4 separate regions of the Homo sapiens genome follow, and regions 1, 2 and 4 are each linked to region 3. The links come from fine-mapping of genetic effects on gene expression. A gene starts in region 3. Each other region holds a variant in brackets. All regions are shown on one strand. Distances are from middle to middle.

Region 1 (5,156 bases), 320 kb before region 3:
CTCTACAATTTAATTTTAACTCTATTCAAAACTTACCTCCTCTAGCAACTCTTTTCATGCGTCATTCAACAAATGGTGATTGCCATTTTAACCTCTGTTTCTAAGTAACTTTCATGTGTAATTTGTAAAATGTTCCCTTGTAATGTTAATTATTTGAATGTTCCTAAGTTTTTTGTCTGAACAAATTCACTGTTAGCAACAAAGGCTTCACAGCAGCTTTTTTGGCATTCAAGAAAAAAAAAAGCATAGACCTTAAAACAGTTATTTTCATCTGTGATGTCCATAGACATTTTAATTATTCAATTCCTATCCCTAGCCTCTCCACATATCTATTCATGCTGATTAATCTTTTTAAAAGGTTTCATGTATCATATAGTTTTTCTCCTAAGAAACATTTCCTAAATTTCTCTGGCCCAGCAGTGAGTCTCACCCTGACTGTATATTAGAATCACCTGGGGAGATTTTTAAAAATGTCAATGACTGAGTCCCACCTCACATCAGTTAAATTGAAGCTCAGACATAAATATTTTTAAAATATTCAGACAATTCTAATGTGTAGCCAGAGTTTAGAATCCTTGGGTTAAGGTTAAAACTTCCTTGTCTAGCCCTCAGGAAGCTAGAGTAAATTTTGGCCTCACTCCGATTTCAATCTGATATCTTGCTCCATAGAATTTTTTCTTCCTTTTTAAAATTTAACCCATCATATTGTTTTTTTCCCCCATGGATATATCATAAAAGTGTCTGAACCTGAAAAAAAAATCCTATATTTGTATAATACTTTATGCTTTAAATACAAGAACTTATGTATTATCTACAAGGAACCTCTGTAGACTGGTAGAAAACATAATCCATCCTATAACAGATTAGGAAGACACAGGTTCAGGTATATTCAGTGCCATTTGCTGAAGGATTTGCCCTGTAAAAGCAGGACAAGTGTTCACTCTATTTTGGGCAATTTCTACTGTACCATATCTCCCTTAATGGGTTCATCTATAACTCATTCATTCACTCATTTTATTCTGTTTGTTTGTTTGATAATCAGACTTTTACTGAGTGCATGTTATGTGTCAGAATTGTACTGGATCATCAAGATATGGCATTTAATATCTGTAATACTCTCACTCTAGCCCTGAAACAATACATGAAAATAAATAACCACCATGATGAGTGAACATGCCACCTGAAAATGTATGCAGACTGCTAAGGGACAGAGAAGAGCATGCATAGACTCCCAGATTTGATACATGAATAGAGAGTCTCGAGAGGTGGACTGATGAGGGAATCATGGTTAGCACACATTTGAGACAGAAGGAACTGCATATGCAAAGGTGAGAAAACATGAATTCTCATGAGCCATGAGTAATTTGATAATAGTTCAAACATGAAGAATGTGAGGATTGATTTCAGAACAGACAGAAACTATCAGTGCATTAATTCAATAGCACAACATATAGTGAGAAGTTATAGAATTGGACTTAATATAAGGGCCAACAGTGCCAAGAGTGAGCTTTAAAGGTCATTCTTTTTCTTCCAACTTTTCCAAGAAAATATGCAACATAACAAAATGAGCGCATTTGGAATATCATTGTGATGCCCAGTTAAGTCCTTCCATCCCTAAAAGATCTCACCCCCAAGCCTCTCCTGTGTTTCATTCTGGAGCAGCTCCTGTTTTTGGAACAGTGAATGGCATGAAAGGAAAATTTCTAACTTACTGTTCTTTCCTTACTTTTTAAAATTGAGTCTTTTGAGGTAAATTTCTTCTGCAAATTAATATATAACTCAGAGCAAAATAAAAGAAAAAAGTAACACTGTAAACAATATTTTGAGATTAACTATTATAAATACCCAAACTTTTAAGAAAAAAAATTCTTACAGGAAAAAATTTAATCACTATGAATCCTCCCTAACAAATTTCTACTTCCGGGAGAGTTGCAGCATTTTCTAAAAAAAGATTTATTTTAAAAGTCTCGGCTGGGCGCAGTGGCTCACGCCTGTAATCCCAGCACTTTGGGAGGCCGAGGTGGGCGGATCACCTGTGGTCAGGAGTTTGAGACCAGCCTGGTCAACATGGCAAAACCCCGTCTACTGAAAATATAAAAATTAGCTGGATGTGGTGGTGCATGCCTGTAATCCCAGCTACTTGGGAGTCTGAGGCACGAGAATAGCTTGAGCTCGAGAGCTGGAGGTTGCAGTGAGCTGAGACTGCACCACTGCACTCCAGCCTGGGCGACAGAACGAGATTCTGCCTCAAAAAGAAAAAAATAAAATAAAAAACTCTCAAGGTTCATCCCACCAAAAAATTTTACTGTTTGCCCAATTTAATATAAATAACTGCGTATTGAATTATGGGTAAGATGCATTTGCTAAATCAGATTTATATTGGGGGGTACATATGTAAATCAAACTTGAGAAGTCTAAAGCTCAATAACAACAATCATATTCAATGAAAATCACTGAAAGTACATTTGTTTTATACTTTAAGACCAGTTTGCTATTTTTCATCACCTATGATTGAAAGTCTGTATTGCAATATGTGGATAAATCATGCCACTCCAAAACATCCATTGTAGTTCCTGGGAAAATTATCATTCACTACCTATAGACATATCTGCTCAAAGTTTTCACATAATCAGGTATTTTTACTCTTTCATTTTTGAAATAAATTTTCAAAAAAGCACTTCTAGCCATATTAAGAGAAAAATAATCAACAGTAGCAAGAACAACAAAAGTTTTATGGAAGATCTTTTTATGAAAAACACAGCTGTTTTCTTTGCTAAATAGGGGGTTCTTTACATTTTCAACTCAATGGTAATGCAGTAGCAATGCTTAGTATTATTTATTATTCTATTACTACTCCTACCTTCTTACAAAATCAAGATTGTTTACTAAAAATCAATAGCACTTTCATAGAAGTTTTGCAGTCATTATAGAGGCAATAGTTTTGTACTTTTGTGCTATAGGTTTCATTAAATAACAATTCCATTTATTTAAAAACTCCCACTGAAAACGTTATTCCTACCCATTTTAAAAAACTAAGGATCCTTTTCATGAAGAATTCTAAAACAGAACATTTGTTTAATAATTCCAAAGAAATTTATGTTTGCAGAAATGAATCTACTTTAAATAATTGTCTAAACTTGGTAT[C/A]TTCAACTTCTCTCTATGCATTTCTTTAGAGATCCACATGTATTAGGTTTCAAGCACGCCCATTCCACTGAAATGGCCCTGCTACCATCACCTATGGTTTTCACGTTACTAATGCAAATGGCAGTTCTCAGTTCTTATCTAATGCAACACAACTAAGTACTACCTCTTCTTGTTTCATTTATGTACTGGCCTTCAAGGATGCTATACACTCATGGCTTTCTTTCTTCTCCTGCTCTCTCTCTGGAATCATTTAACTGTTCGTGTTGTTGTCAAAACTGAAAGGACTAGAGAGGATAAAACTGAGTACTTCCTCAGAAAGTGTTTTCTTCAGTGGAGTCTGTTTAAGCAATTACACCCATATTGAACAGGTTCTGTTTCCAAAATATTTTCTCAGACACAGGAACAATCTTCTATTCATAAGATAAGAAAAGATCTCTTAGAACACCCCCAATCATTATTTCATCAAAGCACATATCTTTATACTTACATCTAGAAACTAATAAAATTTATATTTTAAGTGACCAACAGTATAGATTCTTATTATTTCTGAAAATTTGTTCTGATCATTTAGTATCCTGAAATTTATTCTGGCCCAAATAAGGAAACCTTGAGCCTATACTCACAGCCTTTTCTTTAATGTTTTCTATGTACCTTCTTTTTTTGCTTATTTTTGTTATCTTTAATCATAACTAGAAAATGGAGCTAAAATGCTCATCAAACTTTATTGAACAAATCAGTGTTCAGGTGCAGTGACACATATTTTGATTTAAAATGAAAATGTCGTATGATAAATTTTAAAACCAAATGTTATATAAATGCAATCATATCATAGAATTGTAGATGGCTATAATACACATTAATTTAAAAACAGGGATTGCTTATGTGAAATAAGAAAAATAGGCAGACCCTAAAATGATATGAAGGAAATGTTACCTGTATCTATAGTATACAGAGTCTGTTTTTTTTTAATTGCTTTTTTGAGTCTCTTCTTTAAATTTTTTTCTTTAAAACTTTGAGACATAAATCAATGCACAAAAATCAGTAGCATTTCTACACAACAATAAATATTAGTCAAGCACCAAAACAAGAAGTTAATCCCACTTACAATAACTACAAAAAAGACTTATGAATATATTTTACCAAGGAGTTGAAAGATCTTTACAAGAAAAACTACAAAACCCTGATTAAAAAAAATCATAGATTGCACAAATGGAAAAATATCCCATGTTCATAGATTGGAAGGATTAATGTTGTTAAAATGACTATACCGCCCAAAGCAATCTATGGATTCAGTGCAATCCCTATCAAAATGCCAGCATCCTTTTTCACAGAATTACAAAAAAAAAAACATATCCTTTTAAAAAAACACATGTTGAAAATCCATTTAGAGGCCAGGCACAGTGGCTCACGCCTGTAATCCCAGCACTTTGGGAGGCCCAGGCAGGCGGATCACGAGGTCAGGAGATGGAGACCATCCTGGCTAACATGGTGAAACCCCATCTCTACTGAAAATACAAAAAATTAGCCGGGCGTGGTGGCGGGCGCCTGTAGTCCCAGCTACTAGGGAGGCTGAGGCAGGAGAATGGCGTGAACCTGGGAGGCGGAGCTTGCAGTGCGCTGAGCATTTGGCTTAGTCATCATGCTTTCTTCCTCCAACTGAACTCTTGGCAGTTCATGACAAGGAGTAACTTTGTCACAGTAATATATTAACTAACTAGGTAAACTTGAATTTATCCATTGCACAAACAAATAAGCTTATGTTCAACTTCGGGACCCTGACACATGTTCCTACCCAGTGGATTTTGCAAAGTTCACCTTTTCAGTTCTTCTAGGGGCAGCAGAGCTTCTTCAACCCCACTGCAAGTTGACTGACACCCTTCAATACTCTCTTGACCCTACAGATAATGCTCATCAATTCCTCTATGTAAGTCCTCTTCTGTCCTCACAATTCCCATTCCAGATCTTTCCACCTAGAGATACCCTTTTGTCTTCCTTCTTGATGTCTCAAAGGT
Region 2 (5,156 bases), 900 kb after region 3:
GCAGGGTGTGATCTGGGACCAGGAAACATTGCCTGGTCTGTGAAGTTGGAGACAGTAGTCTTATTGACGACCCAGGATTCTAATATTTACATTTTCAAAATGATTCTCTCTGAAGGGAATGGGGGACAGCTGCCTCTATTTCCTGAAAAAATGTCCAGTTTTTTTTTTGTGTGTGTGGTGCTTCACCTACAATACAGATGCTGTGTATGTAGAGTGACATCTGGTTTTCATTGTGTTACTCCAGTGGTAAAAATTGGGGCATAGAAGAAACATGTAGATATTATTTGCTATAAATAATAATAATGATAATGTTTTTGGCTTCAGAAACTTTGTATATGTACTTAAGAAAATGTTAATAAATAGATGTTAAAAATCTAATAGTGTAAAAATGTCCTTTACATGAAATGAGAAATTATGTTCTTGAAACACAGCATTATACTGACTAGTTTTATTACATTGCGTAGATTTTTCTTTTAAATTTCACCTATCTTGGGCTTTAGCTACTTCCTAAGATGGACATTTTTACAACGCTATTGTTAGGGTTAAATTAAAAACGTTGTCTAAAATGCTGTCATAGTTTCTAAGGAGCTATTTGGAGGAAAGGATAGACAGATAATAAGTTGAAATTATTTGGTAATTTATTTTAAAATCTCCAAAAGGGCTAATAGGGTTAAATAAAATATTTGAGGTTTGCTCTTTTTTCCACTTGTCCTTGCTTAAAGATATAAATTCCCTAAGTTGGAGTGCATTTGAAACTGCGGGATGATTGCCAAGCAAAAAGCATGAACATGATAAGAAATCAATAAATGGCTCAGTGTGTTATATATCATGATGTGATGAGCAGTTGAGAAAGGAAGAAACAAGAAAGTAAATAATGATGGGTTTCAAATGATATGACGTTTGAGCAGAGTGTTAGGAAAAGTCAGGTGCAGACGACTGTTAGAAAAAAGCATTAATTAAGAGATATAGAGTTGTATTAGTCAGCTCTCGCATAGCTATAAAGAAATAACTGAGACTGGGTAATTTATTTAAAAAAATTAGAGAAGGTTAATTGGCTCACAGTTCTGTAGGCTGTACAGGAAGCATGGAGGCATCTGCTTCTGGGGAGGATTCATGGATCTTTTAATCATGGCGGAAGGCAAAGGGGGAGTGAGGCATCTTAAGTGGCAGGAGCAGGAGGAAGAGTGGGGGAGGTGCCACACACTTTTAAATGACCAGAGTTCATGGGAACTCACTCACTGTCACAGAGGGAAATCTGCCCCCATGATTGAATCACCTCCTACCAGGCCCCACCACCAACACTGGGGATTACAATTCGACGTAGATTTGGGCAGGGACATAGACCAAACCAAATCAGGAACAGATTGCTACTATGTCATTCAATTCTGAGGAACCTCATAAGAAGTACTTATTCTTGGCAGCATTATGATGATTTTAGTAGTGAAGATACTTTATGTTGATGAAGAAGCATTAAAAAATGAATTTGTTTGCAACTGAGATGTATAAAAATAGAATGTGGAAAAGTAAAGCAAATATACCAATAATTTGAGAGATAAATGTTTCTTCCATCATGTAGACATTTCACAAACACATAAAATTATCTGATCGTTCTCTTTTTTCTTTTCTTTTCTTTTTTTTTTTTTTTTTTGACAGGAGTTTCACTCTTGTTGCGCAGGCTGGAGTACAATGGCGCGTTCTTGGCTCACTGCAACCTCTGCCTCCCAGGTTCAAGCAATTCTCCTGCCTCAATCTCCTGAGTAAATGGTATTATAGGTTCCTGCCATCATGCCTGCCTAACTTTTTGTATTTTTAGTAGAGACAGGGTTTCACCGTGTTGGCTGGGCTGGTCTTGAACTGCTGACCTCAGGTGATCTAGCTGCCTCAGCCTCCCAAAGTGCTGGGATTACAGGCGTGAGCCACAGAGCCCTGGATATTTTTTTGTTTTGTTTTGTTGGGTTGTGTTTTGTATTTTACTTGATTTACATGACCTCTTTTCTTTTTTTTCTTTTTTTTTTTTTCACTTTTATTGTAATTCTCCTAAGGGAAGATAGTATCCTGGGAAGCAATTCATGCAAAATGAAAGATGATTAATGCTGTTTAATTTTAAATAGAAATAGTAAGGTTTCAAGAGTGATAGAAGAGCTACACTAATATTCTTAAAGCTACACTAATGTTCTTAAATATATCCACTCCCTCACCCACACAGACTCACAATCATAAACACACAATGAATAATGCCTTAAAAATTACTAGTATGTCCCCATTTGTTCATCTGTTGAAATACAAAGAAAATGTCTATTAGGGCTTTTTCCATTTATATTACAGTATGAATAAATAAATGATTTGAAAATAAGAGAAAGGAGAGAATAAGAACTCACCTGGTAAACCAAGACATCAGCCCATCGAGGACTGCTAAGAAAATGGGTGATTTGGAGACTTGAATCCAATGTCTGATAATTTTTTTGTATATATCTAGGTTCTATCTAATATTTTCTGCAATCGCAAAGGCTACATATTGGATTATACCTATTGTGTATAGGAGAGAACCCCAAGATTAGATATTTAGGATTTTCTTTATGGAAACATTTTAGAGAAATGTGCTGAGTTTTTGCCTACTAAAACTTAATCCTTATCCACAGAAACATTCCATAGTAATTTCCCTTGAAATCAAAACACTTTAGATTGATTGCCAACTTCTCTGTTGTGCTTGTACCAGTACTTACAGTGTTCATCTGCTCAAAGCAGTGATACATTTGGGACAAAGTCCTTAGGACCTAAACTTCCAGGATGACTGTTCTTTGGGGATCCATACTCTTGTTTGTCAGATTCTTAATTGCTTTTATCGGAGTGGCTTCTCTTTATTCTTAGACTGGGGGTTTCTTGGTGATTTATTGATTTCAGTATCTTACCAAAAAAATCTGGTTTAAAAATATTCTGAGAGAACTCTGTCATGAAATCACAATATATATCATGACATGATTAAAAACAACTGGGCAAGGTATACTTGGATGCAACTATGATTTGATGTAATAATAAGGTCAACAAATGGGAATCATGTATTGAATAAGTGCTATCTGTCATGCTATATATATATACATATATATATACATATC[T/C]GTAATCATTATCATCCAAATACTTTAAAATATTTGTATTCTTATCCTAATTTAGAAGTAAGAAAACTGAGTTCTGAGGAGCTTATCTAGGATGATACAGTTAGTAAATAATGAAGGTAAAGTTTTATTTCAGGTATTTCTAGTTCCAAGCCTACAGTATTTTCCGAACACTATGCTGCCATTTCATGCTCGAATTATAGCGTAAATGGGTGATGATGGTTTAATTTTCCCTTCCCACGATTAACAAATTATTGTACAATATTTCTCTAAAAAATAATTTAAGAACTTATACATTGCTTATAAAAATTATGTATGAAAAATTGCATCATGGAATGCAAAAATAGAACTGAAATACTTTATTTTCTGTCATAAACTGAAATAAAAGCAATTGTTCTGCAATACAACAAATGGAAACCATTTTTGACATATCAGGTTATTTTTCTTGTTATTAGAAAATGAGTCCTTTTTTTAAAAAAAAAATCACTGATTTTGTGAAAGAGTTTTTATTAGTAACATATGTTTCTCAGAATGGAAATATAATTGTATACTTTGTACTGTAGAAACTGCATTTATTCAGTTTAGCATCCATAAGAACTGCCAAAGATTCCTTTTTTAAAAATATTTGGAGCTGCAATATCAGGCCCATTAAAATATACAAGAAGATACCTTTTTAAAAAAGCATTACTCCTGCTTAGAGAAGGAATTTCAAACCTGGGAGACATAGGGGCCCTGCAGATTTCAAAAGAAAAGCATCCTGTTTAGAGAGGTTTGTATCCTCACTTTTCTTCCTTGTAGCAGCATTTATCCAAAGAATTAAAGACCAAGAGCCATAGCCTTGCAGCTATTATGCAGTCACTCCTCCTGGTCAGCAGCAGCATGTTTGATTATATGCTATGGCTTCCAGCGGGATCTTTCAGTAACTGAAAAGCCATGCTCAGATGCTGATTATTCACCATAAACTTTTTTTTTTTTTTTAACTGAGTGATTAGGGAAAAAGAAAAATAATGAACAAAAAGGGAGAGTGAAGAGGACAGGAGTAAAAGAGCAAAAAGAAGAAAATGTGTTTGGCTCCACAGTTGTGCTTGGTGAAGCTTTCTTTTCCCCAAATACTCAGCTGCCCATCGGGGTTGGTTAATATTTTTAGCGGGAAGTACAACATCAGTTATTGATTTAATTAAAGGACAGTTGAGATAAAGTTAGTTTGTGCAGGAGGAAAAAAAAAGTCACAGGAGAGATTCAGCTAAAGTGAAAATATGTGTCAGAGAGACCACAAAAGAGAATCTGCAAAGGAGGTAGATAGAAGACTGTTTAAAATGGGGAGCTGGTGGATTAAGTGAGAATTCATACTCATTGCACAGTTGGCTGATATCTTAAGTGTTTTATAACTTAAGAAGAAAAACTTTTAGTAAGCGTAATAGACAATTTTTCCCCATTGGTGGTGTGTCACCACTCCTTTACGTTAGACTGCTTACTAAGAAATGTAATTCTTCTTTCGTTTTCTTCTTCAAGGACACAGAGATCGTGGCTACTGCATTATGAGGTTATAAAATACCAATGACATACTATAACATAAATTTATATGATGGAGGAACTATTATTCTCTTAATACAAAATAATTCAAATGAAGATTTGCATTCTTGTGTGATATGGCATAAGTTAAATGTTTAAGACAACATAGTGACAGACTTAAATAGTTATCTTCTGTTAGAAAGCCACATTTTTAATTCTGTGACTTGGGAGAGGTGATTTGATGTTTTTTAAAAAGTCACATAATTGAAAAAGAAAGCTTTTAGTCAGACTGGCATTTATTCAAATCATAGCTCTACTACTTATTATTTGTGATCATGGTCAAATTACTCCTACTCTAGTTTAAATTTATCTTAAGATGGATATTAAATAGAACCTATCCCTTAGGGTCATTTTGAGAGATAAATGAGATGATGCTTATAAAGCAGTTTGCACAGAGGCTGGCGAGAAGAAGATATGCATAACTAAATATCTATCATCATAATTTCCATTAATATTTTTATTTTAAATACCATC
Region 3 (5,156 bases):
AAATTTCCCCAGTGCTGCTGGAAACTTTCACCAAAGGGGCATCCCCAGCTTTAGAAACCAGTCTGTAGACAAGGCTGGCGCTGGTCCCTGTGGCAGCATTGATGTGAGAAATGTTCAGATCCTTTGGTATGTTTCCTATGGGCACATTTTCAGGCAATTCCTCTCTAATAGTGTAAATAAGTTCTTGAGCTATTGCGGAATCCAGCCTTAAACAGGCAATCAGAGCAGCCAACAGGTAAAAATCCCTCAGGTCCATGATAATGTATTTATTTTCTTTTCCTGGATTTTAGGGTTTAAAGGTTTCCACTGAGGAATGATGCACAAATTGCAAGAGGAAGCGTGCATGGACTGGAGGATGCATTATATCTCATCACTTATTTGGAGACAGCCGCTGTCAACACAATTGTATAGACAATATTATTCTTCAGTAAATAAAAACACACCGTCACAAAATATCACCACACATTTTCCCCTGAACATTAGTAAACATGGCAGTTTGCTCTGCCACTGTTTGCAAGTTTACTCTGTGGAGAAAAACACTAAATATCTCCTGCTGGTTGCATTTGCCGGGAGAAAATAAAATTTTCTACTTTTGAATTAAGGACAGCTGCTATTTTTACCTATATTCACGCACGTTGTTTTTCAGAATACTGTTTAATTCAAAACATGCATTCTTGTTCTCCTCTTCCCCTCCCCCTGTCTCACCCTCCTCCTAGCCTCTAACCTACCTCCCTCAGTCTTTTCAGGTGCAAGTGAAAAACACTAAGTATTTAGCTACGGTTCCTGCTAATTGCTTTGTCACATGTCAAATGTGTTTTCTTCTCTGCCCCACTGAGTCACCTATCTTTTCTAAAAAGGCTATCTTTTTCTTTCCTCCCAGTTCTTCAACTGCCTTCTAATACAATCTTACTGGGAAACGAGCATCCGGACATGCCGCTGCAGCGGCATCAGAAGCAATAGTCACCGGCCTCTACACATCCTCATTGCCTAAAAGCACAACAACAAGACTTCAGATTTCTTGCCCACAGCTTGCTCTCCTTTCTCCATATTGACAAATTATCCTCATTAGGATTCATAAACACATTAAAACTTTTAAAAATGTATAATAATATAGGATTCATTTTCCTAGAGGTGGAAGAGAGTGCCGAGATATAAGTGAAACGCAGCTAACATTCCCATGTAACATCACAATATTTTCTACTGAACATAAAAGAGAAAAAAAATGCAATTTCTTAATCCTGATCTCTGGTTAGAATATTAGTAACATTTGCCACACATAAATACTGCAACCCAATCATGCAGGTAAAAAGGCTTCTGCTTAGATAACTGCAGTTTAAATGGGTGCAAGGCTCCAGGCAGCTACCTACTTGAGTAGGACTGGTCAGTTCTCAGGCTCTAATCTTATCTGCATTAGGCTGCACAGTAGCTGATGCCCGCGATTAGTTCCGGCAGAGTGATGCAGGTAGGGATGCAGATACAGCCGAGTAGGTGAGCTCTGCCCCAACCGTCTACCCAATTACAAGCATCTTTCGCCTACACTGAGGACACATCTAAACACAGAATTTACAATTGTGCATGCGAAACTTTACACTTACGTTAGTTGCCTCAACCTTTCCCCTTTCCCAGTATGCTGCAGTTAGGAATGATTTGTTCCAACACATAGAAAGCCATGCATCTGGTAGCACCAGTTTGGGGAGAAATCAGAAGCAGCAAAATGTTTCCTCCTTGTAAAATGTGTTGCTTCGGGCTGGCAAATTAGCAACTCCAGAGAACAAATTCACGGATTTGTCGTTAGTCATTCTCTCCACATTTCGTCTCTCTTACCCACTGGGTCTGGGTTCTTCTGGGCATTTAGCACACACAACACATAGTTGCACTTCTTCAGCTCAGGGATATTTTCCACAGCAGCATGCATACCATTTCCATCCGATGCCAATACTGCTTAAGTCTCTAACTTCTTGTAGGAAACGTCAGAGTTGCGGTGATGATGATTCTCTGACAGCTATCCGGGTGACAGTTGCCCGAAAAATTCCTAATCGGTTATCTCTTGCGTGCTTCAGAGACTCTGAGGCGCTCCTTTCCGTCTCGCGTGCTCTCCCTCTCTCCCTTCCCCTCTGCCCCTCTCTCCTTCTCCCTCTCCTCTCTCTGAACTGAATTTCTTGATATAACTCTCAATAAGCCCAGAGGGAGGGCGTGACTGCCCAGGCCCCGCCCCCGGGCTCTGATTGGCCTGCATCTTGCGGCGCGGGCGGCCGCAGCCCGGCGCGAGGGAGGGAGCGCGGAACAAGGCGCTGACTGTCTCCCAGCCTCCCCTCCTCCGCGCCCCCTCGGCAGCAGCGAAAACCCGGAAATCTGATCCTGGCCCCAGGAGAGCCGGGTTCCATGAGGTGCACTGAGCATGCTCTGCAGGGTCCGGCGTGGGAGGGACGCGCTGGCGCTCCCCAGGCCCGGGCGGAAGCGGCGCTCGCAGGCGCTGAAAGCGAGCGACCCTCTGAGCCCGGGTGGTCCGGCGGGCAAGGGCGGCGCGGGAGACCCGCAGGGCGCGGGCGCGGATCCGGGGAACCAGGGCCACCGCTGCGGGCGGATGGGGGTCACCGAGGCGGCTCGTCTCCAGGCGCACACTTCGCACATCTCTTTGCTAAGTGAAGGGGCCAAAATGCACAGATGGGGGAGTCTACCCAGGAACAGAGGCGCGAGACGTATAGCCACCCCTGGGTTGGGAGCACGAGCCAGCAGATCCCCGGAGCGCGTTAAACGGACAACATGCCCGGTGCTGCAAATAGAGGCTTTTGCTGGCAGGGACATTGGAAAGAAGGGCGGAGAGGGAGTACAGCGAAAGGTGGGGACCGCAGAATTTGGAATCTCTGCGGAGACCGGAAAGAAAATTAATCGGAGCACTTCCTACATGCAGAGCCACGGAAACTGCCTTGGAAAGAGAAAGTGGCAGCGTCTGGGTCCCCTCGGTCAGCCCGGGCCAGTCGGCTGCGCGTGCGAAGTCTCCTCTAGCGGAGCGGGACCGGCCGCGGCGGTGGATCGTGGCGGTCCCTGCACTTCTGCTCCAGCCGCGCCTGGAAACCTGAGCCCGGACTCGCGGCTGCTGCAAAACCCGCTTCCAGCCCACCTCACTGCGAACTTTGCTTCCGAGGGGCTGGAAGGAGTCCCAGGCAGCTGTTTCCCAAGCTGTGGAACACTTCCTTTCCCCTAGGCACTTTCTGCTGATTCCAACTTTCTTTCCTGTGATTTTCGTCTTTTCCCGTGCATTTCATTTCTCCGACTCCAGCTCTGTACTAAATCCTCACAAGTTTCTCGTTTTCATACGGGAACTGGATGGAATGACTCCCCAAAAAATACAGCTTTATTTCTCAAATACTGACCCCCAAAGCACTATCTAGTAATATATTTGATTGATCTTTCAAAGTCAGTAAACCACAAAGGTTTGTGTAATGGCTTGTACTTAACGCCTGATACCTGAGTAAAGTTTGAAGCATTAACATAGGAACAGTTCACTTGGAACAAAAATTTATTTTCTGAATGACCTATAAAGGTTGTCAGAGAAGGTCTTAGTACATGATTGAATAACTTGGTCTAACTTACAGGAAGAATAAAGGGCATTTATTTTAAACCTGTGTGTTCCCCATTCTATAATGGGCTGCCTAGGCATTAAAGGCTCTTGACATACTTAAGCTCTTGACTGAGGGCGTGTTGGAGATTACCCCTTGTTTTTGAGTACAATAGTTTTGTTTGCTTTTTTTCTTTTTTAAGTAACATTTGTTTTTAGACGTTTAAATGAAAAGTAAAAAAAAAAAAAAACACCAATCAAGCTTACTAAGCCATATATTGAATAAATAATGACATGATTTAACCAACTAATTTGACATCACAATTTTCCAACATGAAATTGTAAGCTCTTTTTAATTCAAACTTTTCTGAGTTAATATTCACAGTTCAACTGCAGTGTCTAAAAGCCCACTGTAAAATCCATTAATCCCTTATATGTAAAATATAAAATACTTTCCTTGCAGATAATAGACTGATATTTTTTAAATAGCAAAGCAACTTTTATTATAGTAATATTTTGTATGATTAGAATATATAAAATTCAAGAATAGAAAGGACTTACAAGTATCCCAAAGTGAAAAGAAAAATATTGCCTCACAGAATAATGTCAGTGAATGAAAGGATGATTCTTTTATCTTACCACAGTAAACGATCATTTTGCCATTCACAAAATCTACAATTAAAGCTAGTACATTGTTCCAATTGTCACCTATTTTATGCACTGCACTGTTTTTAAATAAATGAACCATCATTGTGATACATTTACAATAAACATAGCAGCACAGCCACTTTCCAGTTCATTTCATAAGCACCACAGTTATATCATATTCTTATTCTAATCATACCGTAGTCATTTCAAAGTCATGTTGTAGTCGCAACACATAGCTTAGCAATAATTATTTAACATCATTATTAAACGGAGTTGTTTCTCTTTGCTAAGGATAGCTTCACGTGTTGGCAGAACCCATTATTACCTCCTGCTCATAAATGAAATCTTAGTTTGAACACAAGATGAAGGTTAGAGAAGAGAAAAAAAAAATCATCACATGATTCAATTAATGACTATGAGACTTCAATTAAAGAAAACCACAGGTCAAAGCCCCAGAATGAAATATGTCTAGATTCTTTTCAAAGGAGATGGAGTTTCAGAGACAAATAGAGCTATGGACTCAGGGCATTATATCCTTTAGGTGTTTATTTGGCATTATCTGAACGACTGAGATTCCTTAATGTTCTCAGTTTTACCTCTTAAATCTAGAATAGTTGAGGCTGGTTTGCCCTATAATAATCCGACTTCTAAACTCTAAAATGAGAACTATTATTAGAGATCTTATTAATATTCCTAGAGGAAAATTAAATATAAAGGGTCATATTCCTAACCCTGTGTTATCACAACTTAAGGTTTCTTCCCAAAACACTATATAAATCATTTTCATAATGAGAGCTGTTCATAATCTACCTCTCCAATATTAATTTTTTAAGTTAGGTCTGTGTAATTATGAATCAGGAAAATATTCTTAATTTCAGTTTTTGTAAGGGAACACCTATTTGTTTTTATGCTGTGTTTTATCATTGTTTTTCCTTAGTGAATTTAATAA
Region 4 (5,156 bases), 26 kb after region 3:
GTTGTTGTAGAGATTTAAGGAGCCATTGATCAGGGATCTGAGAGGAGCCTCTAGGAGCCAAGAGAAGTCATTGGCTGACATCCAGCAAGGAAACAGAGACTTCAATTTCACAACAACAAAAAACTGAATTCTGCCCATAACAGGAATAGGCTCAGAGAGCACCTTGAACCACTAGAGGAGAATGCAGTCCAAGCCAGAGCAAAGATCCTGGCCACACCATCTTGAGCTATGAGCTAAGAAACAGGTGTTGTTTAAAGTCACAAAATTTGATTCGTTATGCTGCAGTATAAAACACACACAGGCCCAATGTGTCCATAGTGCCAAGTCTGAGAAACACTAGCTAAAGCATTCTGGTCTAGCACTTCTCAAATTACTATTAAAGGGATGTTACTAGGTAGTTTTCAAAGAAACAATGAAGAAAATCTTCCCCTGAGGATAAACATTTATTTAACTCAGATCAAGTTAAAGATGTTTTGTTACTGTGGGACATTTTAGAAACTTTAATATCCTGGTTATGTTATGAAGCTACAGGAGAGGAGTTGATTATAAAGCAATTCCAAAGCGCATTTGAATAAAGATCTGCTATTCTGGGAAAATGGATTAATGTATTTTGATTCCAAAATCAATTAATATCTTTTGATTTGATTAGGATCAAATTTAGTCAAATGTACAAATGAAACAAACAAACAAAAAAAGAAATCAATTTCATGGCTCATCTTCCTAATTTCAAACTAAATCAGATGTACCAAAAAAATATGGATACCCTTTGTAATTTAGACTATTACAACAATAACAACAATGTTTTTGTTTGTTTGTTCGTTTGTTTGTTGAGACAGGGTCTCTCTCTGTCACCCAGGCTGGAGTAAAATGGTGCAATCATAGCTTACTGTGACCTTGAACTCCTGAGCTCAAGTGATCCTCCTGCCTTAGCTTCCCAAGTAGCTGAGATGACAGGTGTGCACCACAAAGCCCATCTAATATATTATATATATTTTGTAGAGATGAGGTCTCGCTGTGTTGCCCAGGCTGGTCTTGAACTTCTGGACTCAAGTGATCCACCTTAGCCTCCCAAACTATCAGGATTATAGTTGTGAATCACCACGCCTGGCAACAATAATGCTTCTTGATCATGTATTATTACAGAGGTCTTCAAATAGTGTACAGCATATCGGGAAGTTCAAATCTGCAAAGATACAGTATGTATATTTCAATTATTTGTGCAGGAGAGATGCTAGGGCTGAGGGAAATGCATGTTAGACATTACATCGCATTCTACTTTCACTAGCTCTGCTACTGTCTTCTTTCCACGGTCGTCTTCTGGTCACTTTTAAAGCATCTCCATAGACCTGGAAGAAACTTTATTTTCTCTTTTTCTTGCAACACCCACAGATTATCATTCTGTTAATAATGCTAGCACATGGAGACGGGGAGGGGAGGTGTGGTAAAGGGATCTTCTACCTTTCTTCAGACTTCCTGAGTGCGCACTATCATTCTGTGAGTTTCAAAATGCCCTCATCCATATTTTCTACTGTGGTTTGGACACTCGCTTTGGCTGCACTGATATTTGTGATTGCTACAAACTACTGGACACCATTTCTGTCTGTTTTTACTTCCAGGCTCCACATTGCTTGCAGTAGTATCAGTTTCTCCCAGCCCAGTATCCACCCCTATATGTGGCTCTACGTTCAGCGATAGCCAACCTTTAATATATATTACACTACAGATAGTAACCAGTCACTGCTGATGAGATTCAAACTATGAGAAGGCATTTTTTGAACAATGACAATAACCCTAGCGATACTTTAAGGGAAAACAATTAAATCTCCACCAAAAAAAGGTTTCAAGTATCTGTTAGTTAAATAGCTGCTATGTCTGACTTAGTAGAAAAATTATATTAACAATGTCAATGCCCTCTATTGGTTTTCCACTAAATATAGCTAACATATTTAACTGTTATTATTCCAAAATGCTTGTTTTTAGCTTATCTCAAAACCATTTTAGAGAAGGATTGTTTATATCTATTTTATACAGAGAACAACTTTAACATGTAGTATAATCGATTCTTTAGATTAGAAATCATTTTTATTCTATGCTTTACTCGCTGGGGATTAATCTTCATGTGATCAGAATGAGCCTGCTATTTAAATACTGAATTACACCTACTAAATTGAGAATAATTGCTTTCTACCTGGCATTAAAGGACTTCCGTAACAGTCCCAACCAGCCCTTTACAATCTAATCTCCCATTACCACCCTACACAGGTGGTATACTCTAGCGAAAATAAATTTGTCACCATTTTACATTCTTGTTATACTCACTAAAACATTTACGTTTATTGCTCTTTTACTCAGAAAGACTTTGATTGAGGATATCCTAGCTTGTGTTACAGCAACAGATAGCTCCAAAATTGAAGTGACGTAACCCACCAAGTGTCTATTTCTTGCAAATACTTTACGATTAATGCAGGTCATGGAGGGGTAGAGGGGTTGTGGGATTACTGTGATTCACAAGATCTCTGAGACAGGCTGACAGAGACTGCAAATTTAATTTCTTCACATTTATTTAGCAATAAAATGGAAAAAAGAATGTCTACTTTTGCAAGTCTGTCATGAAGATTAAATATGGAAAACACTGTTTGGATATCCCAAAGATAACATTCCTTCTCTCTTTTCCACTGAGCACCTGTAAGAAACAAATTTCACCTCCCATTTGGACTATAGTTATGTTTTTGCCTGCTAAATGTTAAGTGCTTGAGGACAAAGCATATGTCTTTTTTATTCTTGTATCTGCTTAATTGTCCAGATGTTGCCAGTAGACTTTTGGTAATACTTGTCGAATGTAGAGAACTCATAATTCTCCAATACTGGAATGGCTTTCTAAGTGTTCTCTGCAATCCTTGCTCTGTATTTAATCTGAATAGAAATAGAAATAAAAAT[A/G]AAATATTGAGTGTTTTAGTTTTAAAGAGTCATATAAGATAAATGCATAACTAATTTTAGCTTTAAGTTTTTCCTCCTACAAACCTTTATGAAAGTTTATAAACTGAGAAACTTTTTTCCAAGAAGTATGGATCCCAGCATATAGTAGTTGCTTAATGCATATTTATGAATGAAGTCTGATGCACTTGCAGAGAAACTATACAAGTCTAGAGATATTAATTATACATCTATAAAATATAAATTAATACAGGCTTTTGTCAAGAGATTTTTCTCTGAGTATCCTAAAAGAAATATTTCATAATCTTGAAGTCAACATTCTTAAGCCACATATGTTTTGAAGTAATTTAGTAATGTTAGGATTTTTATTCTTTTTCTTGATATTTAATAGGCACTTTTATAAGGGGGAGAAGAATTGTTAGAAAGTCATACTTCTACAAACGTTATTTTCAGTCTTTGCATGACTTATTGAGGTGTCTGGCTTATGGAATGCATTTGGGCTCCATTCCTTACTCCATCAATGACTGCATAATTGAAAAATAAAAATATGAAAATGCTCACTTGTTCTGATACAGGGTCTCTTTTGTAACATGTAAGAAAAAATTTGTATAAAATATGTAAGTTCTCTGAAATGCAAAGTACAAGCTGTTATTGCTATGCTATTATTTTTACAAATTAGTTTCCTTCATCAATAGTCATGTATAGAACTGGATTAATACTAGTAGACACACTCTTAAATAGAAGGAATATATTATCAATAAGGTTATTTCATCTAAAAACACAATGAAAGATTCTCAACTATGTGGGAATTTACACACATACTATTATTCAAGTGTGTTGGGAGAAAAATCTTACTCTACTAAATACATTCAGGAACATTTTAGGATGAGATACATGTTTTGAGAATACATTCATATCTGAAATATGCATTTTTCTTATAAATTCCTTTCTTCTTGATATTCTAGGTGTCAACCAATTTTTCACTGGATTTTCAACCCATAAAAAGAAGCTGTAAATTTCAGAAAAACGAGAGTGTAATTTCAAGACAAATACATCACAAAAGTATGAATAAGAAAGAAATGTGTTGTTTCAGCTAGGCAGGTATTCCTGTTAATTTATGGAGCCGTTTGTCCTGCTTGTAAAATTCCATTTTTTATGGAATAGAGAATTATTGCTGCTGTAAGATGTAACAAAATGGCTAAATGCCTGAGGGAAATACAATAAGGACATTTGGGTTAGGAATATAATAATATTCAAAATATTTCACTGGGAAGTTAGAAAAAGTTATCCCAGTTTTCTTTTAATAAATTGAAGCAGAATGCTAATTTAAAGCTAAATAAATATAACAATCTGAATGCTGCCATGCACACCAATATAATTTATTTAAAAGATTTGCCAAATGTATATAACAATGATTAAAACCATTAATGTATGTATGTATGTATGTAACAATAATTAAAACCATTAATGAAATTCCATGATTTTTTTTTGTCTTGAATATTATATCCATTTGTCTAATTTGGACTAAATATTAAATATTCCAGTCATTTTAGCTTGCTACATAAAATTAAACAAATAGAGATGGGAATGTCGAGGAAAGAAGATATATACTGTACAGTGCTGGCTGTCCCTAACTACTCATTCTGCCTTTCATTTTTACTAACTGAAACCCAGTTCTGTGTGGTTTAGTGTTGTTCCCAGCTAACCACTTGATTTCCCCAGCTGCTGCCCATCTAGGTGTGGCCTAATGACACATTTCTGGCCAATAAGATGTAAGTAGAACAATGTTGGGCAAGGCACCCAGGAGAGCTGTGTATTCTTGGATTAAAAGAGACAGATTTAGCTGCCATTCCCTTTACTTCCCCTTTCCACTTTTATCTTGTGGAATGTCTTTGTGATGCATAGGAGTGCAGATGCCATGTTGCAATTGAGGATAAAAGTCACATTTCAAAGATTGCAGGCCCCATAGGTAGATGGTGCCTGAAGCATCAAAGACATCTTAAGGCCACTGCCATAGTACTGGGTTTCTTATTATATGGCGAAAATAAATCACTTTTGCAATCTTGTTGTATTTTTTCCCCTTCTACAAGTGTTGAACACAAGAAAAAAAGAAAGGGAAGAGGAAGAGGAGAGATGACAGTAAATCTATGTTGTTTAGAAAGATGAAATGGGAGATTTTAAAGTAGGCAAATAATTATAAATCCTATCTTCAGTCTCCAAAA

Alleles and levels. Alleles are on the strand shown, and positions count from the first base shown. SD is a standard deviation of normalised expression in the study named. Not every link is listed here.
For the expression in prefrontal cortex of the gene that starts at base 2,152 in region 3, A is the high allele of the variant in region 1 and C is the other (small effect, 0.39 SD a copy in BrainSeq).

Evidence for each region. PIP is the estimated chance that this variant, and not a neighbour inherited with it, causes the effect.
Region 1: its variant is the best candidate, but not a certain one, in a credible set for the expression of PCDH9 in prefrontal cortex (BrainSeq, PIP 0.78).
Region 2: its variant is the best candidate, but not a certain one, in a credible set for the expression of PCDH9 in thyroid (GTEx, PIP 0.51).
Region 4: its variant is the best candidate, but not a certain one, in a credible set for the expression of PCDH9 in nasal epithelium (TOPMed, PIP 0.51).

The regions. Positions count from the first base shown.
Region 1 is chr13:66,904,955-66,910,110 of GRCh38, forward strand. The region is part of intron 2 of PCDH9 (protocadherin 9); the gene reads right to left. The region is part of intron 4 of PCDH9-AS2 (PCDH9 antisense RNA 2); the gene reads left to right. Among named protein-coding and RNA genes, the nearest start is that of PCDH9-AS3, 70 kb to the right of the region's middle. The variant C/A (reference allele first, on the strand shown) is at 3,145.
Region 2 is chr13:68,130,228-68,135,383 of GRCh38, forward strand. No RefSeq gene overlaps it. Among named protein-coding and RNA genes, the nearest start is that of LINC02342, 750 kb to the right of the region's middle. The variant T/C (reference allele first, on the strand shown) is at 3,114.
Region 3 is chr13:67,228,185-67,233,340 of GRCh38, forward strand. It overlaps PCDH9 (protocadherin 9), which reads right to left and starts at 2,152. Exons shown (of 5, transcript NM_203487.3): 1 at 1,596-2,152; 2 at 1-391. The coding sequence starts at 256. RefSeq lists a silencer at 2,423-2,562.
Region 4 is chr13:67,253,964-67,259,119 of GRCh38, forward strand. It overlaps LOC105370246 (a long non-coding RNA gene), which reads right to left. Exons shown (of 3, transcript XR_002957498.1): 3 at 2,631-2,913. Among named protein-coding and RNA genes, the nearest start is that of PCDH9, 26 kb to the left of the region's middle. RefSeq lists an enhancer at 4,425-5,156. The variant A/G (reference allele first, on the strand shown) is at 2,938.